Regions from separate parts of the Homo sapiens genome. Here region 2 is linked to region 1. Evidence: fine-mapped expression QTL. A gene starts in region 1. The other region holds a variant in brackets. All regions are shown on one strand. Distances are between the middles of the regions.

Region 1 (16,238 bases):
GTCCACACACATTACAGTCCACAGCTGTTGTGAGAGCCACCTGTGTGCTGGACACCCTCTGGATGTTGGGCAAGTTGTTACATGAGATGCCCTGGGGTGCTACATCCACTCACTCCAGATAGCAGGGAGGTCTCAGCAGATCTGCAGAGATCAAGGGGGTCAGCAACAGCCAAAGCCCCTAGTCCCAGAGCTGGCTGCCCTCTGTTTCACAGCAGCTCCCTGACCTGTGTTGCTGCGTGCACTCCCTACAGCTCGACACAGCCAGGGGACCAACAGGCCAAGAAATGCAAGATCCCGGGAGGGTTCTTAGCAGCAGAATCTGAGGCCCAGAGACCCTGAGGCCGTGGCCAGGCCTGCTAGTCTGGCTAGAGCAAGGCCCATTCCTGGCGGGGGTGTCATTGCCTTCACCGGACGCTTCCCTCTCAGGGTCCTGGGACTGCACCAGATGCCCTGAGGGAATGGCCCACCCTGGCCTGTACCCACTTCAGCCTGTGATCTATCCAAAGAGCCAGGCCCAAAAGCGCCTAGGTCAGGGTGCTCAGGCTACCAGGAGCACGCCTCTGTGCCCCCGGCAACCCAGTTGACCTTTAATTGACGCTTTCCAGACCAGCCCTGCGGCACCACTTGCCATGCGGGAGGCCACCAGGGTGTGCAAGCCTGGCTGCCATTCCAGTCTGTCCTGTCTGGGAATCGCCCTGTGGCCAGGCCCGCATGCTGGCCTCTGCCCAGGACTCCTCAGCATTTCCTCTTGGCATCCCTCCCCTCTCCCAGACCCTCTTCCAGCAGATGGCAAGGCCTCGGCATTGGGAAGTCAGGCACCTCTGCGGGCCCAGCCCCCTCCCGTGGCTCCCCTGACAGGGGCAGGGGTAGGGCAGCAGCACAGACCAATTCCGTTGAACGTGGAAATAAAGGACCCTTTCACTGGGCAGGGTGGTGTGCCTCACCCTCCCCGGCTGGTGGGCAGCCAGGGCCCTGGCTGTGGGTGTGCATATGACACACCTAGTAGGTGGCCAGCATGTGGACCGGACGTTGGTAGGAAGGTGGCAAAAGCCGAGCTCGTGGCTGGGCCAGTACCTCCCATTAGAGGGCTTTGCTGGGGTTGTGTGATCACAGGTACCTACCCTGTCCTCTCAGGCACTTACCACGTAAAGCCTAGGAGCTGGTGAGTTGGAGGGGTGGGGTGCGGAGAGGCCCTCAGCTGACCTCTGGTTCAGGCTCGAGACGAACTCACAGCCAAGTGTCCGAGGATGGTGAGGAGCAGGGAGGGGCGCCATCCAGGAGGGGGATGGTGTGGGTGGGGCCTTGAAGGGTGGGGAGGCAGAGAAGGAAGCATTCCAGGCAAGAGGGTGGACAACAGTCCGGGGCCCGCAGGGTTGGGGCTCGGCCAGCTTGCATCACTCCAGGACCCCAGGTTGAATGGGGTGGGATGTTGGAGCTGCTCAGTCAGGGCTCTTGGCCGCAGGCCTCAAACCCCTCCTGAGGTGGTTTCAGCAGAAAAGGGGTGTTGGGAGGGTCGCTTGGAACCCTGGAGTAAAAACGGCTGCCACGTGTTGGAGATAGCCTAGGGAGGGGAGCCTGAGGCTTCCGGGATAGGTTGGCTTCCCTCTTCCCCCCTCCCGCCTCTCTTCTTGGTCTGTGTCTCTGCTCTCCTCTCCTGTATCTGCTTCGTTCTTTTCTCTTTATTTATTGATTTTTTTTGAGATGGAGTCTCGCTCTGTTGCCCAGGCTGGAGTGCAGTGGCATGATCTCTGCCCACTGCATCCTCCACCTCCCAGGTTTAAGCAATTCTCCTGCCTCAGCCTCCCGAGTAGCTAGGACTACAGGTGCTTGCCACCATGCCCAGCTAATTTTGGTATTTTTAGTAGAGACAGGGTTTCACCACGTTGGTCAGGCTGGTCTCAAACTCCTGACCTCAGATGATATACCTGCATTGGCCTCTTAAAGTTCTGGGATTTCAGGCATGAGCCACTGCAACCGGCCCATTCTTTTCTCTTTGCAGAGTGGCTTTCTTTGTTTTTCTTGTGCCTGATAGGAGAGGACACCCACCCCTACCGCCATCCCCCATAATGGCCCCAGGTGTACATGTCATCAGGTCCAGTGCTTGCAAGAGACAAGCTGGTGACTCTGTCCTGATTCCAGCTTCTCAGCTTAGGTGAAGTCCCACCAACCCCCGTTCAGGATAATGAGGATCTCTGGATCTAAGGCCAATAATGGATGACCGGTGCCACCCCCCAACCTAATGGGAGATGGTGTTCAGAGAAGAGGTGTGCTCCTCCACAGAAAACTGTAAAATCAAGGCTACGGTGGGGGATTGACATGATTAAACTGAGCTAGGAGTGACTTGGTCCCTAGATGTCTGGGCAGAGGTGGAGAGGCCGAAGATGGGGGAGCTGCTGCTGCACAGTGAGTTTGGTGATTGGCGTCTGGTGTAAGTGATGTCGAGAATATGGAGTTCTTCCAAGACCTCTGGGATAGGGTCTGATGTCCCCCTCCCGCCTCCCTCCAGTTTCTCAGCCGATGGCACACAGTCGTCCTGGTGCCTGCTCTTGGCACTCAGCCTTTATCCACTCAAGCCGTGGGATCCAGCTCAGCTCAGTCCCAGCATCCCCGACGGGTGGAGAACTCGGGCCTGACATGTTGTGACTCACGCAGTCTGATCATGCCTGGTGCATGTGCTGATCTATTCTCTGGCCCCAGAGGTGGGGCCGCTGCCGGGTGGAATGCGGCAGCTGTTGAACATCTGGCTAGCAATGCAGTCCAGCAGCTGAGCAGAAGGTGGGGTGGCCCCTGCCCTGTAGGATGGCTGACTGGAGCCAACCAGCCCAACCGGCCAGGGCAATAGGCTGTTGGAGCCTGGAGAGGGAAGTGCATTATGAGGGCTCTGTCCTAAGTCAGCTCCCATCCACCAAGGGTGGTAACGCTAAGCTTTTACTCTCTGCTTAAACCATCCAGCAAGTCATCAAAGTTACAAAAGCCCCTGCTTAGTGCGTTCTGGGTTACTTCATTGTGAAGATCAGGGGACTGAAGCTCAGCCAGATCAAGTGCCTCGCCTAAGGTCATGCAGCTTGGCCAAATCCAAACCCTTGGGTGAGTGGACAGAGGAGCGTCAGCTAGGAGAGGTGGGCGCTGGTCTTACTGGGGAGGAGGGGCCTGCCCCCTGGACTGCTGCCCTGACCTCAGCCCCATCCCATTCTGCCTAGCCCCTTGCTGGGCACTTCCCTCCCCAGGGACAGCCACAGAAAAATGATGATCTCGGCTGGGCGTGGTGGCTCACGCCTGTAATCCCAGCACTTTGGGAGGCCGAGGCAGGTGGATCACCTTAGGTCAGGAGTTCGAGACAAACCTTGCCAACATGATGAAACCCCGTCTCTACTAAAAATACAAACATTAGCTGGGCGTGGTGGTGTGTGCCTGTAGTCCCGGCTACTTGGGAGGCTGAGGCAGGAGAATCACTTGAACCCGGAGGCGAAGGTTGCAGTGAGCCGAGATCAAGCCGCTGCACTCCAGCTCTGGGCAACAGAGCAAGACTCTGCCTCGAAAAAAATAAATAAATAAGAAAGATGATCTCAGGGTCCCTACCCTAGGAGTCAGATGCACGGTGGGGCCATTCCTAGCGCTGCCTGCCCTGGACAGCGCCTGTCTATGCCTGTGGCCCAGCATCATTATGAGGAGTGCTCCCTTGACTCTGGCTGTCCTGATTTGGACACTAGACTTCATGGTCACCCTGGCCACAGGTACCCTATCCTGCATCCTGAGCTCCGCTCTTCCTGGAGTCATGGGCTGGTCTTTCCTCCTGGTGGCCTTGCGCCCCAGCTCCAGCTTCCTGACTTTTCTCTTCTGGAAATGGGAATGCCAAGTCCTATTTCATGGAGTTTTGAGAATGAAATGACTGGTGTACGGTGCAAAGTGCCTGTGAGTGCCCAAGAAATCTCTTTTATTAACAAGACACGAATTCATTCCAATTGATTTGACGGGCCACTGTTGTCACAGCAGCCGCACTGCCCCAAAGGCAGCAGTGATGTTTGAGCGCCGACTCCCCGACGGCACTTGGTCCTCACAACCACCCCATGGAGTTCATGCTAAGATCCTCGCATTTCATTTGTGTGGCAGGGACTTGCTGAGGTCCGGGGAGGGGCAGAGAGGAGGGGTGCGGCCGCCCCGCGCTTTGCACTTTCCGCGTCCTCCAGCAGAGGGGTCGGCCGGCGGGCTCAGCGTCCCGCATAATAGCCGCTTTGAAGCCCGCGGAGCGGGTGGCGGGAGGGGAGGGGAGAGGCGGGAGGGGAGGGGAGAGGCGGGAGGGGAGGGGCGAGGCGGGAGGGAGGGAGGGAGGGGCCGGCAGCGGAGGGAGGGGTGTGTCGGCCGCCCGCGCCGTTCCTCCGCCCCTCGGTCCCGCGGCCACACGCAGCTAGCCGGAGCCCGGACCAGGCGCCTGTGCCTCCTCCTCGTCCCTCGCCGCGTCCGCGAAGCCTGGAGCCGGCGGGAGCCCCGCGCTCGCCATGTCGGGCGAGCTCAGCAACAGGTTCCAAGGTAGGCGCCGCCGTCCCCGAGCAGCCACCTGTGCGCGCCGGGCGGACCGCGGGGTCCACCGCGCGCGGGAAGCGGGCGGGGACGGGGGCGCGTGGCCCGAAGAGGACCCCGCTTCCCAGGCCGCCTCTTTGTCTCCTCCAGGAGGGAAGGCGTTCGGCTTGCTCAAAGCCCGGCAGGAGAGGAGGCTGGCCGAGATCAACCGGGTAAGCCCCGCGCCCAGGGCAGCACGCGAGTCCCGAGCCGCGCGCTGCGCGGGTGCCACCTCTCCTTCCGCGAGGCCGTGCCCGCCTCCAGATCTACCCTCTTCCTTCCCTTCCCCTGGGCTTCCCTCAGGTGCCTCCCTCCGCCCCCAGCCCCGTCGCCTCCGACTCCAGGTAGGTCCGCCTCCGCCTCCCGCCTCCGGTCTCGGGTTGCAAGTTGTTACTCTTGCAACTGGGGACTGGGGAGGTGGGGCCGGGTCAGGAGCTCGGATGCCAGCCGGCTCGTGGCTCCCCGCAAGCCCGCTTGGGAGCAGCCCAAGGATTTGGCGCGGGAAGGGCCCTAGGCCAGTGATCTCTCCAGCTCAGAACACAGGCTCCGGGTCATTTGCTGGTCTGTCGCCCAGGCTGGAGTTCGGTGGCCCAATCTCAGCTCATTGCAGCCTCCACCTTTGGGATTCAAACGGTCCTCCCTCCTCATCCTCCCGAGTAGCTGGGACTACAGGCATGTGCCCCCACGCCTGGCCTTAGCTATTGTTGTTATAAGGGATTCAAAAGTACAAATAGAAGACTCTGATGGGCGTAGAGATCCTGGCACTTCCCCGTGGTCTCCAGCCTCCCGCCTCCCTCAAACACACCACTCCTCTTCACTCCAACTTTCAGGAAAGATTGCCTTAAGGGATTCAATGCTTTTCTTGCTGGTCCTGGTGGATTTCTCAAAAGAAATCTTTCCTGTTGTTGCCAGGCATCCAGTGAGAGCTCCATAAATTTACATAGATTCTAGAAGATAAGGAAAGATATCAGGACCTGTCTGGGTTGGCCAAAGCTCAAAGGCAGCACAGCCAGTGGCTTTAAAGTTCTGCAAGACCTGGGCTCAGATCTGGCCTCCACTGTGTGCCAGCTCTGTGGTCCTCAGCAAAGGGCCTCTCATCTCCAAGCAGGGCATTGTGCAGGCTCAGAGAGGGAAGGCCCGTGGCCTGCATGGCCCAGCACCCAGCATTCAGGAAGCACTCACAGAACTAGCATTATTTCCTGAGGTGGATGTCTCCCAGTTTCCTTCTTAACTGGTGGCAGAGGCACGCCCGCTGAAACAAGGCTTGGCATTCCCCCTGCAGGCTCCTCTGGTCCCCTGGACACCCAGGGTCTAAGCCCAGCTGACAGTCTGGAAGTGGGCCGCTGGTGAGGTCAGCAGAGCCCGAGAAGGCTGTGGGAGGCGGGTCCGAGCCTGGGGCCAGGTTGTGGTATTGCCTCTTGCCAGCAGTGTGCAGCCTTGATTCCCCCTTGGTTTTCTTGGACTGCTTGGATGTAGGCAGCCTGTCTGTTTTCCATCCGCTGGCTACAGGACTCCCATTCGGTCCCCAGCTACAGGGCTCTGGGGACCTCAGGGTTCCCCCTCCAGGTAAGCTCCGGCCTCCTCACCGCCACCCTCACCCTGCTTCCTGGGGGCATCTTGAGCACAACTGGAAGGTTGCCCGGACATCTGGCTGGGGTGCTCAGGGGTCTCGGATCCCTGCTGGGCTCCTTCCCAGATCACTGTGTGCCTGCCCAGCCTGGGGCTTGGCTGCTCTAGCCCTCTGGACAGAAGGCTGGAACCCCGACCTCATATAGCCCCCTGGGTCACTTGGCCAGGCGGGTTCTGAGCTGGCTGGAGCCACCCACAGCCAGCGGGACCCTGAGCCACAGACAGCTGGAGATGGGGGTGAGGTGACCATGGTTGGACAAGCCAGAAGAGCTAAGAGGGCGGGGCCAACCTAGCCCTTGGGGAGGTGGGTTGGGGGAGGGGGCGGCTCCAGGGTTGTTTTGGGAAACCGACTAGCTTGGCTTAGAAAGAGGAGGGACTTTAACAGCTGTCAGGGGCTGATCTGGGCAGCACTGGGACTAGGGAAAGTGAGCAGGAAGGAGCTGTGGTCTAACCACCTCAGGACAGCGCCCAGAGAGGGCAAGCAGCTGACCCAAGGCCACGCAGAAGCCAGTGACAGAGCTTGCAGCCCAGCGTCCTTCCCCTGCCAAGACGCTGTACTGAGACCCACCATGACAGCCCAGCCGCTGTAGGGCTGCTGAGGCCCAGGATCTGGGGCCCTGTAGGAAGGAGGCGCCAGGATCACACGGGAAGCTTGAGCTGCTTCACCACAGTGGAGCAGGGTGGCCCCACCAGTTTAGTCATGAGGTACCCACAAGCACTGATCTGTGACTCTGGGCAAGCCACTCACCTCTCTGAGCCTCCTTCTCCAAAAAGATAATGGTTGTGATTTTTTCAGTGAGACAATCTATGTAAAGCACCCAGGAGAGCTGGCTGCGGCCCTGATAGCTATCAGGACAGTTTCTTTGTTCGTGGCCTCAAGGTGCAGGGAGTGGAAGATACTCCGCCCTGGCTCATGCTGGTTGCTCAGCCCAGCAGAACCTCGTCTTCCCCAGCCTGAAATGGGAGCAGGGATCTCTGCCCCTCTGGAGTCCCTGCAACAATTAACCGATGGAAGTGGATGGAAGCTCTTTGCAGACTGTGGGGGAGTCACTCTGTGTGAGAGTCTGAATTGGTTCACCCACGGCCATGGGGGCAGTGCAGAGGGCCTGAGCTAGGTGGATTGTAGGCAGAATTGTGCTGGCAGCCCGGACTGCCTTCCTTTGGGGTGCAGCTTCACTGCCCCACTGGAGTGTGGATTCTGGGGGCCTGGGCTAAGCCCAGGATTCACTGCCAAAGCCCTGCTTCTGTGCCAGGCAGCTTGGGCACCGCCATGGCTGCTGCCTGGGGCACAGCCCAGCTTGGCTGGCAGATCTAGGGGCTTCTCTGGGCCGATACCTAGTTCCCTTTGGGGCCTTTCTCCTCCCTTGGTGTAGGCCAGCTTCCAGAGGGGCAGGGTAGCTCAGCCTTAGCTTTTTTTTTTTTTTTTTTTTAGACAGAGTCTCTGTCACCCAGGCTGGAGTGCAGTGGCGTGATCTCAGTTCACTGCAACCTCCGCCTCTCGGGTTCAAGCGATTCTCCTGCCTCAGCCTCCCGAGTAACTGGGACTACAGGCGCTTGCCACCACGCCCAGCTAATCTTTGTGTTTTTAGTAGAGACAGGGTTTCACCGTGTTGGTCAGGCTGGTCTCGAACTCCTGACCTCAGGTGATCTGCCCGCCTCAGCCTTCCAAAGTGCTAGGATTACAGGCGTGAGCCACCCCACCCCGCCCAAATTTAGCTTTTTGTTGTTGCTGTTGTTAACAGAGACAGGGTCTCACTCTGTTGCCCAGGCTGGGGTGCAGTGGCCCAATCTCAGCTCATTGCAGCCTCTACCTCCCCAGCTCAAGCAATCTTCCATCTCATCCTCTCAAGTAGCTGGGACTACAGGCATGTGCCCCCATACCCTGCCTTAGCTATTGTTATTATAAGGGATTCAAGAGTAAAAATAGGAGACTCTAATGGGCCTAGAAATCCCAGTAGAGGAAGGGAGGTGGGGGAGCCGCATGAAAATGCACCTCTTTTTGGTTTCACTTTAGTTTTTGCTGTAGTTTTCTGAACACTTGGTATGTGCCCGTCCTGTGCCAGGTGCACTGTGGGCATTATCTTGCGAATGCTCTCTCTAACCCAGGGAGTATTGTTGCTCCCATTTTTGAGAAAACGAGACTCAGAGAGGCTGGGTAAACTGCCTGGGTTTAAACAGCCTCGACTTGAACCCAGCCTATTTTCTCAATCGCTCAGCTTGGCTGGGCCTCCTGCTGCGTGTCCACCCCCAGCTCCATTTGCTGTGTGTTTGTATGTGCACGCACGTGTGTACATAGCAGCACTACTGGAGTGGGCAGAACTGGCCAGCACCTCCTACTCCCCCTACATAGCTGGCATTCCCCGAGCCCTGATGGCATGGTTGGTGACCCCAGGCCAGCCAGGCATGGCCTTATATGGCAATGGGAGAGATTTTCTCCAGCTTCCCACAGGGACAGAGAGAAGCAGGAGTGGGGCTGGGGGCGCTGCCCCTCAGGGTGGCTGTGCCCTGGGACTTAGCAGGAGGCGCTCAGGGGACAGTGAGGGCTGCCACATGAGCTGGCTAGCAAGTGAGGTCTTTTTTCTTTCTTTCTTTTTTTGAGACGGCGTCTCGCTCTGTCACCCAGGGTGGAGTGCAGTGGCGTGATCTCGGCTCACTGCAACCTCCACCCCCTAAGTTTACGCGATTCTTCTGCCTCAGCCTCCCAAGTAGCTGGAACTATAGGCGCGCACCACCACGCCCGGCTAATTTTTGTATTTTTAGTAGAGACGGGGTTTCACCATATTGGTCAGGCTGGTCTCAAACCCCTGACCTCGTGATCCGCCCCCCTCGGCCTCCCAAAGTGCTGGGATTACAGGTGTGAACCACCACACCCGGCCAACAGGTGAGATCTTCAACACAGTAACGAGCTGTGGCTGTGCTCCATGCCCACAGATTGACATTCATCATCTCGCTGACCCCGCAACAGGGCACCCCAGCAGACAGATGCACAGTGAGAATCTGCAGACAGCCCCATGGGATAAGGATTATCATGACTCCTTTTTTTTTGAGACAGGGTCTCACTGGGTTGCCCAGGCTGAAGTGCAGTGGTGTGATCTCGGCTCACTGCAGTCTTGACCTCCTGGGCTTAGGTGATCCTTGCACTTCAGCCTCCTGAGTAGCTGGGACTATAGGCGTGCACCACCACGCCAAGCTAATTTTTTTTTTTTGTGGAGACAAGGTTTCACCATGTTGCCCAGGCTGGTCTCGAACTCCTAAGCTTAAGCAATCTGCCCACCTTGGCCTCCCAGAGTGCTGAGATTACAGGCATACATCACTGTGCCGGGCCTTGACTTCCATTTTAGAGATGAGGAAACAGGCTTAGCTAGATGAAGTCACCTGCAAGGTCACCCAGCCAGGAAGTGGCAGATCTGGGATTCAAACCCAGTCACCCTGGCCCCTGTCACCAGGTGGCTGCAGCCTAGCTATGACACAGGCCTCTCTTGCTTATATCGATAAGGATCTCTGGCTACTGTCCCAATGGTCCAGCCCTCCTGGGTCGAATGAAGGGCACTCAGCATTCCCTGTCACATTTAGGTACCTGATGGTTTTTTGTTTTGTTTCGCTGTTTTTCATTTTGAGACAGAGTCTCACTCTGTCACCCAGGCTGGAGTGCAGTGGCATGATCTCGGCTCACTGCAACCTCTGCCACCCAAGTTCAAGCGATTCCCCTGCCACAGCCTCCCGAGTAGCTGGGATTACAAGTGCCCACCACCACGGCTAATTTTTGTATTTTTAGTAGAGACAGGGTTTCACCATGTTGGCCAGGCTGGTCTCGAACTCCTGACCTCAAGTGATCCACCCGCCTTGGCCTCCCAAAGTGCTGGGATTGCAGGTATGAGCCACTGCACCTGGCCCCTGATGTTTTTTTCAGAAGCCACATGTCATCTGCACTGGGAAGGCAGCTGGGCAGGGTAGGCTGGGTATCTCTGCCCAGGGGTGTATATATCCCCTGCCCTTCCCCCAGCAATGGGGGGCCTCTGAGACCTGACCCAGGCAAGTATGCAGGTGTGTCTTTTTTCCTATGTACCTGGCAGTGCCACTCTGTCCCTGCCCAGGCGAATGTATGCAGCTGGCATTGCTGGGCACCCACCTCTCTTGCTCTTCCTTAATATATTATAAGGGAGATGGTGATAAGTGGCCACGTGAGCCTCTGAGGATTCAGTGTCCCCTGCAGGTCCAACCAGTTATGACCTTGGTGTGGCCGTGTCACAGGAAGCTGGAGATGGAATTTCTGCAGGGTGTGCTTTATTGCATAGCTGCTTGGGAGTTTTTCTTTAGCTGCCCCATCTGTTGGCGAGGATGCGGCATCTGAATGAGGCCCAGGGCTGCAGTGGGGAATGTGAACCCGCTGTCCTTGTGGGTGCACATTACAGGCTTCTGCTACTCACCAGGTGCCAGCACCACTTGTGGCCTGGCCCTGGCCCTTTAAGAGCCTGTGGGCTGCGTCAGAGGTCCTACGCCCCGGCATGGTGCTTCCTGTCCTTGGAGTTCTTGTCCAAGGCCTGAGCCACCAGCCCCTTGGATGGCCTCCAAGATGGTGATATCCGCCCACCCCAAAATTCTGCTGCAGCTGATACAGAAAGACAAGCCTGGAGGGCCAGGAGCAAGGGTTCGCCAGAAGGTGCTAGAGGTACCAGCCCAGAAAGAGAGTTAAGTCAGCGAGGAGCAGGCAGGTGGGAGGGCTTCTGAGGACAGGCACGGCAGGGGCTGCCAGCTTCTGATGGGTTTGGAAACAGCCCCTCCTGGGCATAGCACTTGGGGGCCTCGCTGGAGGCTGGGATGGGCTTGGGGGACTCTGGCGAGCATCAGAGGCTGTAGGTGACCAGGAAAGGCGGCAGTGAACAGATGCTATTGGGGACTGAGATGGGAGGGTTCAGGCAGGTTGGATGGCCCATCACTGCCAGGTCAGCCGGGGGCTGAGGACAAAGCAAAACTTGCCCTTGAGGGATGGCCAGTGGGCCAAGACTTGCCAGGAGGACTTCAGGGCATCACGGAGGAGCACAGCATGGTCGGTGGGTGATGTTCTTTCCCTGCCCTTCCCCCGCACACACACCTGCCTCTCGATGTGGCTTGAGTTTGGATGATCCTAAGACATAATAATAATTTTGAACACTTAGCAAGTGTACTAGGAGCCAGGCTCCTTCTGTGCAATTAGCTCGTTTAATCCTTACCGCAGGCCAGGCACTAAGGCAGGAGGATAGCTTGAGTCTGTGAGGTTGAGGCTGCAGTGATCCTGCAGATCGTGCCACTGCACTTTAGGCTTGGGAATGGAGCAAGACCCTGACTCAAAACAAAACAAACAAACAAAAAAATTCCTTACAGCAACTCAGTGAGGAGGTTCTGCATATCATTATGATCCCATTTGATAGATAAGCCCACTTTATAGATGAAGAGACTGAGGCCTAGAGTGGTAAACAGGTAAAGTTGCCCTGCCCAGAGCCACAGAGCTAGTATGTGCTAAAGCTGGAATGGCAACCCTGGCAAGTTATCCCCTATGTCCTACACACCCTGGGCTCAGAGAGATGATGTGACGTTTTCAACTGTTGTGAACTTGGGCAAGGCCTGTCCCTTCCGGCACCTCGGTTTCCCCAGCTATTGAACAAGGAGGGCAAGCTGAACGCTGTGAGGAGTCCCTTCTGGTTCTGTGGCTGGGTGGATAATTTAACAGCTCTGCCACCTCCCAGGCCCCAGCCTTGGATGCTCTGGTCCCCGGGGACTGAAAAGTGGGCTCAGCTGCCTGTGTGTCACCCCCCAGCTCCTGCCCGCTTGCATTTCCTGGCCCTTTGCTAGGGACTGATCAGGCCACTGTGGCCTCCAGGCCTGCCCCTCTGCATGTCAATAGCCACTTTCAGGGCCCAGAGGCCCCCTGCACTTCTCACACCTGCTCCCCCACCCCAGCACTTTCTACTTTCTGCAGCCGGGAAAACTTGTCTTTGGGGACAGTGGGTTAGATTGTGTGAGGAGGATAGGGGATAGAATAAACCACCTACCCCCACATCTCCCTGGAGGGCTATAAAGTGGTTCCCTGGCCTCTGGAATAACCTCCTGCAGCTGCCGAAGAGGAAAGGTAACTCCCAGTATTGACTTTCTTTGCCCAGAAACCTGCAGCCAGGCTACCTTCTTGTTTGGGGCAGGCATAGACCTTGAATTGCTAAAACTTGGCAATCCTGAGCAAGTTGAGCAACCTCTCTGGGCCTCAGTTGTCCCATCTGTCAAATGGGGATACCTGGAAAGAGGAGAGAGAAATCATAACTGGCCTACTCCACGGGGAGGGGGCCTCCTTCCTAATCTGCTGAATAGTCTGTGAGGGTCTATGGAGGTTATAAGCTGATTGTATGGGCATAAGTATTAGAAAAAAATAATAAACAGCTAACATTTATTTAGTATTTGCTGGCCGGGTGCGGTGGCTCATACTTGTAATCCCAGCACTTTGGGATGCTGAGATGGGCGGACTGCTTGGGCCCAGGAGGTTGAGGTTGCAGTGGGCTATGATTGTGCCACTGCACTCCAGCCTGGGCAACAGAGCGAGACTCTGTCTCAAAAAAAAAAAAAAAATTCATGCAGCCATGAAGTGGATTCAAACTCAGGCATTCTGGCTCCAGTCTGCCTTTTTTTTTTCTTTATTTTGCTTTTCTTCCAAACACCTGGGGTGGCTTCTATCTCTGTCTCCTCTGCCTATGGACCCAGGGTCAGGGCAGCCAGGGGTCCTGGAAAGACAGGGTACCTGTGCCTTTGGCAGGGACGGGGGGAGGATGCCTGCAGGGAGGGAGCTGTGGGTGGTACATGAGCAGGAACCAAGAATCCAAAGCTCAGAGGTGGAGCAGGCGTGGCAGCCTGGCTGGTGGAGTCCTGTTCCTGCCACTGCCCGCCGGGCTCCCCCATCCCCTACCCAGGCATGGTCAGCACAGCTGCCCTAATCCCAGAGCCAGTGAGGGCTGCCCACACATGAGGAGCTCAGCTGCCTCTCCCACCCTGGTCACTTGTGGCCCAAGCATTTGTCATGTTTTGTTTTGTTTTGTTTTTTAAGACAAAGTCTCACTGTGTGGCCCAGGCTGGAGTGCAGTGGCGCGATCTCAGCTCACTGCAACCTGCACATTCCGGGTTCAGACAATTCTCCTGCCTCAGCCTCCCAAGTATAGCTGGGATTACAGGTACGTGTGGTTTTTAGTAGAGACAGGATTTCACCATGTTGGCCAGGCTGGTCTTGAACTCCTGACCTCAGGTGATCCGCCTGCCTTGGCCTCTCAAAGTGCTGGGATTACAGGCGTGAACCACCACACTGGGCTGCATTTGTCATTTTTGGCTCTAAGGAAAAATAGGATTCCAAACCCTAAGCCCCTCCAGCCTCTGTCATGCGTGGGCACACACTTTTGCAAAGCTGCCTGATCGTTGCAGGGGTGAGGATGGAGAAAATAATGGACCGAATGGCAGGCCTGTCCATTCATTCAATGGATGTTTTGTTGTTGTTGTTGTTGCTTTTTTTTTTTTTTTAGAGACAGGGTCTGGCTGGAGTGCAGTGGTGCAGTCAAAGCTCATTGCAGCCTTCACCTCCTGGATTCAAGTGATCCTCCAGCCTCAGCCTCCCAAGTAGCTGGGACTACAGGCACGCACCACCACACCCAGCTAATTTTTTAATTTTTTGTAGAGATGGGATCTCCCTATGTTGCTCAGGCTGACTTCAAACTTCTGGCCTCAAGTGATCCTCCCTCCTCGGGCTCCTCAACAGATGTTTATTGAGTGTCTACGATATGCTGGGCACTTCGACGCTAAACCTGTGGCTGGGGCCCTGCCTCCTCCGAGCTGCCTCCTGATACCCACTTCCTCCTCAGTACTGTGCAGGGAGGGAGCCGCAGCTACAGAGGATTTCATGTTCCCAGCACAGCTGCTTGCTGGCTCTGCTGTTTCAGGCAAGTTAGTTAACCTGAGTCTCAACTCCTCCACTCATCCTGCACATGTTTATTGAGCGTCTGCTATGTGGAACCTACATTCTAGCCGGGGAGGCAGAGAGGGTGTAGTAACCTCAGTAAGCAGTGGCAGTGGAAATCATGTTTGGAGGTGACCCATCCTAAGGAGCTGGATAAGGGCGATTGGAAGTCGGGGCAGCTGAAGTGGGCAGGCAGCAGTATAAAACAGGGTGGACAGGGCTGGGCATGGTGGCTCACACCTATAATCCTAGCACTTTGGGAGGCCGAGGCAGGCAGATCACTTGAGCCCAGGAGTTTAAGACCAGCCTGGGCAACAGAGGGAGACCCCATCTCTACAAAAAATACAAACATTAGCTGGGTGTGGTGGCATACACCCGTAGTTCTAGCTGCTCTGGAGGGCTGAGGTGGGAGGATTGTTTGAGCCCAGGCAGGTCGAGGCTGCAGTGAGCTGTGATCGTGCCAACAAAGAATAAATAGGGTCGGCCGCATTGAGAAGGTGACATTCGGCCGCATTGAGAAGGTGACATTGAGGCTGGGTGTGGTGGCTCACGCCTGTGATGCCAGGAATTTGGGAGGCCGAGGCAGTCGGATCACCTGAGGTCAGGAATTTGAGACCGAACTGCTCCATATGGTGAAACCGCATCTCTACTAAAACAAAAATTAGCTGGACGTGTTGGTGCGCACCTGTAGTCCCAGCTACTGGGGAGGCTGAGGCAGGAGAATTGCTTGAACTCGGGAGGGGGAAGTTGCAGTGAGCTGAGATCGCGCCACTGCACTCCAGCCTGGCGACAGAGTGAGACTCCGTCCCAAAAAACAAAAATAAAACAAAACAAAAAAGACAAGGTGACATTGAGCAAAGGCTTGAAGTTGGTGAGGGAGAGAACCACGCAGATCTGTGGACTCCAGGCAGGGTGCACAGCTAGTGCAGGGTGCAGCCCAGGGCAATCTTCCCAACCACTGCTGCCGTTCATGCTGTGCACGTGGCCTTGCTCTTCATCCCTGCCTGGTTGGTCTGTGTCTGTCTGTGTGCAATTTGTCTCTAAGGCCAGGGACCATGTCCTTCCACTTGCACCCATCCACCTACAGAGTGGCCCAAGTAAAACTGGATCTCTAGGGCTGGTCGGTCCAGGCTGAGGCAGGATTTCTGGTCAACCAGACCCCAGGGGCTGGGACAGCCCCTCCAAATCTCTCCCCAGAGGTTCCCAGATGTTGGTGCTCTTGTGCCTCCCCAGGAAGGTTCTCTAGTTCTTGGTAAAGTGAAGGAAATGCAGGGTCACTGTGGTGAGTTGGACCTAGGCTGAATGGATTCCATTTAAACATTCAGAGATGGTGAACTTCCTACTTTTATGAAATGTTCTTTTCTGAACTCATGGCAACAGTCAATGGCCATTGTTTAAAAAGTCTTTACTTGGCAAAATAAAAAGTTGGCACTCGTATATTAGTGCGCCCCTCTGCCCCGCCTTTAAAAATGTTTCATGTCTGCGTGACCCCAAAGTCTGGGAATCACTGATCTAATATGTCCCTTCACTGGGCAGATATGGGATCTGGGACCCTGGGAGGTGCCTGGTTTGCTCACAGTCACAGACAAAAGTTAATTGTCCTCCTTTTGGGCAGAGGATGGGGTGAGGGAGCAGTGCCGAAGAGCTATGAGAGGGAGCCAAGAGGAAAGGAAGTCCTCGACAGAGCCAACTAGGAGGAGGGCGGCCTCCCAGGCTGCCGAAGAAGGATCCAGCGTCAGCTAAGTGGAGGCGGGGCCGTGCCCAGTGCATTGCAATGAGGCCTGGAGTGAGGCTGTGGCCAAGCCAGCAAGACCCCATAGGCCCTGGGACTGCCCTCTGCCCAGGTGCAGGAGGACACAGGTCCTGGAGTCAGATAGACCCAGGTTCGAAACCAACCTTCCTTAGCTGTCTGTGAACCTTTTTTTTTTTTTTTTTTTTTTTGAGATGGAGTCTGTGGCCCGGGCTGGAATGCAGTGGCACAATCTCGGCTCCCGGCAACCTCCACTTCCCAGGTGCAAGTGATTCTCCTGCCTCAGCCTCCCAAGTAGCTGGGATTACAGGCACACGCCCCCATGCCCGGCTAATTTTT
Region 2 (8,000 bases), 46 kb before region 1:
GGAGGCTGAGACAGGAGAATTGCTTGAACCTGGGAGATGGAGGTTGCAGTGAGCCAGGATTGCACCACTACACTCCAGCCTGGGCGACAGAGTGAGACTCCATCTCCAAAAAAAGGAAAAAAAAAAAAAGAGTATTTAATGGTGCAAGCTTGGGGCAGTCCCAGGAGGGGCTGGGTAGCCTGTTGGTGGACTGTGATGCGGCCGGTTGTGGAACAGTGTGTGAAACCATCTCACGTGTAGAACGTGAGTAGCAAAGGATGGGAGGGGAGCATTGCGCTCGTGCTGGTGATTGATTCTGGAGGCCGAATCGGAGTGCAGCCGGGGCATGTGGCCACCAGCTCCCGGGGCTCCCCGCTTCAGGCCGCTTCTGCACAGGTAAGAAATTCCCCCAGCCAGGAAACGCTCTGGGGCAGAGGGACACAGGGACTTTCAGTGTTTCGGGAGCTGTCCACCAAAGCTGTGGCGGGGCGCGCTACAGAATTTGAGGGATGCACTGCAGAATTAAAATCCCACCCCCCCAGTTCCCAAATAGGGGGAAGTACTATTAAAGGTACTAAAATATAAACACTTTTTTTCCCCTGCAGTTTTGCCCTTTATTTGTCATGGTGTTTTTTGGTTTGCTATTTGATGCCATTCTAGGTAAAGGAAAATTTTAAGTTATTAGCATGAAACATATAAAGTTATTAGCATGAATTTTACCATTCTTTTTTTTTTTTTTTTTGAGACGGAGTCTTGCTCTGTTGCCAAGGCTGGAGTGCATTGGCGTGGTCTTGGCTCACTGCAACCTCTGCCTTCTGGGTTCAAGCAATTCCCTGCCTCAGCCTCCTGAGTAGCTGGGATTACAGGCACCCACCACCATGCCCGGCTAATTTTTTGTATTTTTACTAGAGATGGGGTTTCACCATCTTGGCCAGGCTGGTCTTGAACTCCTGACCTTGTGATCCACTCGCCTCAGCCTCCAAAAGTGCTGGGATTACAGGCGTGAGCCACAATGCCAGGCTGCGTATTTTGTTCTTACGAGGACAGTGGAAATACTGCACACAACAAGCCCAGCCACTTTTATTTCACTCCTTGACACACGCATGTTCCACCAACATGGCACACCTCTGTGGCTTTCTCACGGGTAAGGGAAAGACCACTGGGAAAGGAGGAGGGAGGGTACTGGGAAAGGAGGAGGGAGGGTGGCCTGTGTCCTTTCCTCCTGGGTCACGAACTTCTGAAGAAATGATGGGCTGATGCAGTGAAATGACATGAGTCAGAAGGTACCGCACAGCGCTTGGTGGTTCGTGTCTCAGAAAACTAGTGCCTTCTTTCCGAGTTCAGGGCAAGTTCTGATTGGAAGGGAAAGCATGGCCCGGGGCCCAGAGCACCTCTGCTCACTCAGCCAGCTCACTTACCTTGCTGTCACCTGGAGGTCCCGCTAAACTCCTGCTGCTGGGTGTTCCCTAGGAATTTCGTGCTCATGGGCATCGTGAATGCTACACATGAGCAGACGGCAGCCTCTCTGGTCACACGTGTGTGTATCCCCTCCGTTCACCCTCGGACTCCGTGTTCCATCGGACGTCACTTCTAAAACCCAAGTTCAAAGATAAAATTATTAAGAATGTGAAGATGGTCACAGCAGAGCATGAAGCCAAGTGTGGGGGCGTGTGTGACTGCAGAGGTGTGGGTGGGCCCCCTGCAGGGTCTGCTGTGCAGGAAGCTTTTGATTTTCTACCCACTGCACTTTTATCTTTTTTGAATGTTTAGTTGCCGATAAAATCAACATAGACATTTAAAATCAAGCTAACCATATGAAGACTGTCAAAGCCTTCTTCTCTTGTCTTCAGAGAAGTTCCTGGGAGACCAGCGGTTCAGCTATGGGCAGCCCCTCATACTGACCTTCCGGGTGCCCCCCGGGGACTCCCCACTCCCTGTACAGCTGAGGCTGGAAGGGACAGGCTTGGCCCTGTCCCTGAGGCACTCTAGCCTGTCTGGCCCCCAGGATGCCGGGCATCCCAGGGAGGTAGAGCTCAGGTTCCAGTAAGTATCCCCTTCTGTCCTGAGAGATGGGGAGGTGAGAGGGGTGGTCTCTGAGGTCCGGGCACATTTCAGATGCCCCTGTAGTCTGGGGGGCTACCCCCCATCCCCAGGCATGGTACCCCCCCACCCTATGTCGGGATCTCACTTTGACCGCTTCTCTCGCCAGCCTGCAGGAGACCTCCGAGGACGTGGCCCCTCCACTGCCCCCCTTCCACTTCCAGCGGCTCCTCGCCAACCTGACCAGCCTCCGCCTCCGCGTCAGTCCCGGCCCCAGCCCTGCCGGTCAGTAAAGACAACCACATGCCCAAGACCCGAGTGCTTGCCAGGTCTCAGAACTGGGCTGGGCTCCGGCGGTCACAGTCTTGTCAGGGCCTTGCGGCCGGGTGGTTATTGTCCTGTTTTGCCAAGAAGGAACCTTAGTCAAAAGTCAGGACAGTTGCCAGAGGCCATATAACCTGTGAAGGCAATGGGGATGGTGGCTGAGGTCAGATGCAGGGAATGGACAGGAGAGAGGCCTGAAGGATGGGCCTCAGAGGCAGGTGTGCGGCCAGCAAGCCACCCAGACCCGCTGGGTGTGCTCACTCCACCTTCACTGGATCCACCAAGCCCCCTGTCCCCGCTGGACACAGCCCACAGCCGGCAGTCCAGGAGTCCCCTGGCAGAGTGACTCCCCTGCTGGTCACTGGCGGTATTGTACCTAAGCCACCCTAGGAGGGTCTGGTCTTCCCAAAGAGGGGGCCAAGCCATCACACATCATTGATGGGGGTCTGTCACCACCTCCCACCCTGGTCACAGTGATTGACAGCCTTAGCCTCTGATCTGTTCCTCATTAGAACCTCTACCCACACGCTATTTTAAAAATCAATATAGGTCGGGCGCAGAAGCTCACGCCTGTAATCCCAGCACTTTGGGAGGCCAAGGCGAGTGGATCATGAAGTCGGGAGTTTGAGACCAGCCTGGCCAAGATGGTGAAACCCCACCTCTACTAAAAATACAAAAATTAGCTGGGCGTGGTGGCACACACCTGTAATCCCAGCTACTTGGGAGGCTGAGGCAGGAGAATCGCTTGAACCCAGGAGGCGGAGGTTGTAGTGAGCCAAGATTGCGCCACTGCACTCCAGACTGGGCGACAGAGCCAGACTCCATCTCAAAACAACA[ACAG/A]CAACAATAACAAAAAACAGTCTGGTGGGGTGGTCTGCACCTGTAATTCCAGCTACTCAGGAGACTAAGACTGGAGGATCGCTTGAGCCCAGGAGGTTGAGACTGTAGTGACTGTGCCACTGCACTCCAGCCTGGGTGACAAAGCGAGACCTTGTCTCTAAAAAAAAAAAAACAAAACAAAAAACAAAACCCCTAGTGTATGTGTGTAAAATGAAGCTGAGCTCTAGGCTCAGATGTTTACAAAGGGGTTTTTCTACCCTTCCAGCACCACGCAGGACATTTGAAAGTCATGTGGGGAGTTTCTGGGAATGTCAATTTCTGGGAACTTTAGGCCTCTTCATCCACATGACAACCAACATGTCCTCAGATTTGCTTCCAGGGGAGGGAGATTTTGCTCTTTTTGAGGACCTCTGGCTCAGAGGGTCAGTCTTCCCCTGGGCCTCTTTTGAGTCCAAGGGTGCTGGGATGCCCTGGAGAAGCAGAGGACATAGCGACCCTCCCCAGCACCCGCAATCCCCAAACTTCCTCTTTCCATGGGTAATGTTTTGGGAGGCCTCTCTCTAAACCTTTCTGTGTGTACGTACTTAACATCTGTATTTTTTTAAAAACATAGAAATGTGATTACACAGCCGGGCGTGGTGGCTCACGCCTGTAATCCCAGCTCTTTGGGAGGCTGAGGCGGGCGGATCACTTGAGCTCAGGAGTTTGAGACCAGCCTGGGCAATATGGTGAAACCCCATCTCTACTAAAAATACAAAAATTAGCCGGGTATGGTGGCATGTGCCTGTAATCCCAGCTACTCGGGAGGGAGAATTGCTTGAACCTGGGAGGCGGAGGTTGCAGTTAGCCAAGATCATGCCACTGCACTCCAGCCTGGGTAGCAGAGCCAGACCTTGTCTCAAAGAAAGAAAGAAAAAGAAAGAGAGAGGGGAAGGGAGGGGGAGAAAGAGAGAGAGAGAGTGAGAGAGAGAGAAAGAAAGAAGAAGGGAGGGAGGGAGCAAGGGAGGGAAAAGAAAAGAAAGAAAGGTAATCACACAGTACGATATTCTGGGACTTGCTTTTTGTCAGCTAACAGTGCGTCGTGGAGGTTGTTCCTTGTCATTACGCGTAGAAAGCCTGGTTTTCTGTGTCTGGTGTGTAAGATTCTGTGGTATGGGTGCTCTGTGAGGTTTTAGCCATCCCCCTATTGACAGGCGCTTAAGTGGCCTCCAGTTTTCCCCATTACAACCGTGTCACAGGGAATAGGGACCAGCCTCATAGAAAGGTCTTGGTATTCCAGTATAAGTGTCGCTTTAGGACAGAGTGCTGGAAATGGAGATGTTAGGTCAAAGAGGGAGCATTTTCCATTTTGATCCACACTGCCAAATTTTCCTTCAGAAAGGCTGCTCTGATGAGGAGTGTCGGCCGCCTCCAGTCTCCCTGTTCTGTGTCTACAGATGGTCATTTTCATATTTTGCCCAGAGTTTATAGTTGTTTTCTGTGGGAAGGTTGATCTGCCAGGATCCCCTGCTCCTCTGTTACTGGAAGCAAAACCTTCTGATTAGTATTCGTACATCCACACTCTTTTTTCTTTTCTTTCTTTTTTTTTTTTTTTTTTTGAGACGGAGTCTTGCTCTGTCACCCAGGCTGGAGTGCAGTGGCATGATCTCTGCTCACTGCAAGCTCCGCCTCCCGGGTTCATGTCATCCTCCTGCCTCAGCCTCCCGAGTAGCTAGGACTACAGGCGCCCGCCACCACGCCCGGCTAATTTTTTGTATTTTTTAGTAGAGACGGGGTTTCACCGTGTTAGCCAGGATGGTCTCGATTTCCTGACCTTATGATTCGCCCGCCTCAGCCTCCCAAAGTCCTGGGATTACAGGCTCGAGCCACCGCGCCCGGCCCATTTTTTTTTCCAAATATCAGATTTCTTTATTTTTAAAATGTACACATTATAGTTGATCTAAATACAAGATGTTCACTTTCCTTGCAGGTAAGAAATGTCACTGACATTTCTGTGTCAATTAGCTTCTTTTACATCAAAATCCTGTTACATTCATTAGTCTCAAAATCTCCTATAACACTTAGAACTTTAGGCTGGGCGTGGTGGCTCAAGCCTGTAATTCCAGCACTTTGGGAGGCTGAGACAGGAGTCCTTGAGGCCAGGAGTTCAAAACCAGCCTGGACAACAAGGCGAAACCGTTTTTCTACAAAAAATTTAAAAAATTAGCTGGGTGTGGTGCCACACACCTTTGGTCTCAGCTACTTGAGCGGCTGAGGCAGGAGGATCATTTGAGGCCAGGAGTTCAAGGCTGCAGTGAGCTATGGTTGTACCACTGCACTCCAGCCTGAGTGACAGAGCAAGATTCTGTCTCTCTTAAAAACAACCAAAACAACAAGAAAAATCTTAAAACCTTAGAAATAGACCTTAAACTTTGCCTAAATGTAGCATTCAGTTATGAGTAGCCCAGGTGAGTTTCCTACACGCCATCCTCCACTAAAATTCATCTATAAAATGTTACCAGTCTGAGAGATGTGAATGGTATCATCGTTGTTTAAATCTATATATCGTTAATAACCTGTGGATGGATATCTTTCCATAAAATTCTCAGCCATATCTATTTCTTCTTGAAAATTGCCTAATCATCTCCCTTACCCTTGAATTGACAATTTGAAAAATAAAAATAAAAATCAACCAGCGCAGTGGCTCACACATGCAATCCCAGCACTTTGGGAGGCCAAGGCAGGAGGATTACTTGAGGCCAGGAGTTCAAGACCAGCCTGGGCAACATGGAGAAACCCCATCTCTACAAAAATTTTAAAAATTAGCTGGGCTTGGTGTCTTGCCTGTAGTCGCAGCTACTTGGGAGGGTGACATGGTGGGATCACTGGAGACTAGGAGTCGAGGCTACAGAGCTATGATTGCACCACTGCACTCTAGCCTGAGTGACAGAATGAGAATCTGTCTCAAAAAAAGAAAAATCATTGATTGCTAGTCTGCCTTTATATACGTGGGCCTGGTCCATATGTGAACAGGAAGGTTTTGGGGGGAAGCATGTGCAGGGAGCTTGTGCCTCCTCTCTTCCTCTCTCCCTTCTCGCTCTGCAGGTCCAGTGTTCCTGACTGAGGTCCGGCTCACATCCGCCCGGCCAGGGCTTTCCCCGCCAGCCTCCTGGGTGGAGATTTGTTCATGTCCCACTGGCTACACGGGCCAGTTCTGTGAATCCTGTGCTCCGGGATACAAGAGGGAGATGCCACAGGGGGGTCCCTATGCCAGCTGTGTCCCCTGCACCTGTAACCAGCATGGCACCTGTGACCCCAACACAGGTGAGTCTCCTGGCACCCCATCCGAAGGCACCTGGGTTATACCCAAAACAGCGGGATGAGTACTGACCTGAACAGGGCCAGCCTGGCACAGGCATTGAGGTGTTGGCCAAGCTGTGGGGCAGTGCGGGCACTGAGCTTTCCCGTGCTGCTCAGTGCCTGGGCACCTCATAGTTTAATAAAAGTTACTACTGGAATTTGTTGAAGCCTCAGGCTCTGTGCCAAGGACTTTGTATGTATCAGGTGATAACCATAAGCCAGCTGCTCTGTGGGCCATCTGTCCGCGCCACCTTCTCCCTGGGCTGGCCCTTTTCCCAGGAAGGACCAGGGAAAGACCTCAGGGGTCTTTACATGCAGAGGGTGCTGTGAGGAAGGGCAGAGGCACCAGCATGGCAGGTGACAGCAGGAGGGTTCTCAAGAAGGTCACACAGGTGACAGCAGCTCATAGGCACCAACCCAGAACCACAGACCTGCCACCCTCACCCCTTAGTGGCCATGGGAAAGTCACTTCCCTCCCTGAGCCTGCTTCCTCTTCTGTAAGGTGGAGATAATGACAGTATATACACTGCTTCTGTTTCTACACAAAGCCATATGGTGGTCAGGAGACGCTCAGGCTCTGAAAACACAGGCCTGGGTTGCATAGGAGCTCAGCCATAGCTAACTGGGAATGCCTTAGGGAAGCGCAGATAATGAAAGTCTCTACTTTTCAGGACACTTGGGAAATAATAAAATAGTGTCACCAGGTTCCTGCATGTGCTAGTCACCTTCTCTACACTATATCATTGACTCCTGCAGACATCCCTGCGGGGCCGGGACCCTTCCTGTCCCATCTCACAGGTGAAGGCCCCACGCTGCAGTGCAGATGCATGGCCAGCAGGTGGCAGAGCCGTGCCTCCCTCCAGCCTGGACTCCTGAGGCCTGGTTGCTGCTGGCTACTCATTCTCACTTCTTTTTATTTTATTTTATGTTTTATTTTTTATTTTTTGTGGGGGGTGACAGAGTCTCGCTCTGTTGCCTATGCTGGAGTGCAGTGGTGCAGTCTTGGCTCACTGCAGCCTCCTGCTGGGTTCAAGAGATCCTCCCACCTCAGCCTCCTGTGTAGCTGGGATTACAGACGCCTGTCACCATCCTCGGCTAATTTTTATATTTTCAGTAGAGATGGCGTTTTACCATGTTGAGGCTGGTCTCAAACCTCTAACTTCAAGTGATCCTCCTGCTTCAGCCTCCCGAAGTGCTGGGATTACAGGCGTGAGCCACCACGCCTGGCCAACTGATCCCCACTTTTATAGGAGCAGACCTGGCCTTGCTCAAGGTCACATGGCCAGGAGGCACCTGAGAAGGCTGGACTCAGACCTCTTCCACTCCCACACTGACGGCTTCATGCCTAGACACCTGCTGCCTCCCCAGAGCAGGTGGGGGCTGTCTGAGAAGAAGGCTGCTGGGCATTTTTCTTCCTGAAAAGACGGTAGCCAGGCGTGGTGGCTCACACCTGTAATCCCAGCACTTTGGGAGGCTGA

What was found.
Region 2: its variant is fine-mapped to the expression of AIF1L in substantia nigra (GTEx, PIP 0.93).

What each region holds. Positions count from the first base shown.
Region 1 is chr9:131,092,134-131,108,371 of GRCh38, forward strand. AIF1L (allograft inflammatory factor 1 like) reads left to right here and starts at 4,398. Exons shown (of 6, transcript NM_031426.4): 1 at 4,398-4,527; 2 at 4,669-4,730. The coding sequence starts at 4,497. It overlaps LAMC3 (laminin subunit gamma 3), which reads left to right. Exons shown (of 28, transcript NM_006059.4): 28 at 1-2,340. It overlaps LOC124902289 (a long non-coding RNA gene), which reads right to left and starts at 1,239. Exons shown (of 3, transcript XR_007061825.1): 1 at 1,143-1,239. RefSeq lists enhancers at 200-798, 799-1,395, 2,193-2,694, 4,735-5,234, 9,403-9,953 and 2 more.
Region 2 is chr9:131,050,662-131,058,661 of GRCh38, forward strand. LAMC3 (laminin subunit gamma 3) reads left to right here. Exons shown (of 28, transcript NM_006059.4): 10 at 1,830-2,022; 11 at 2,189-2,304; 12 at 6,268-6,486. Among named protein-coding and RNA genes, the nearest start is that of AIF1L, 42 kb to the right of the region's middle. RefSeq lists enhancers at 1,010-2,209, 7,517-8,000. The variant ACAG/A (reference allele first, on the strand shown) is at 3,181.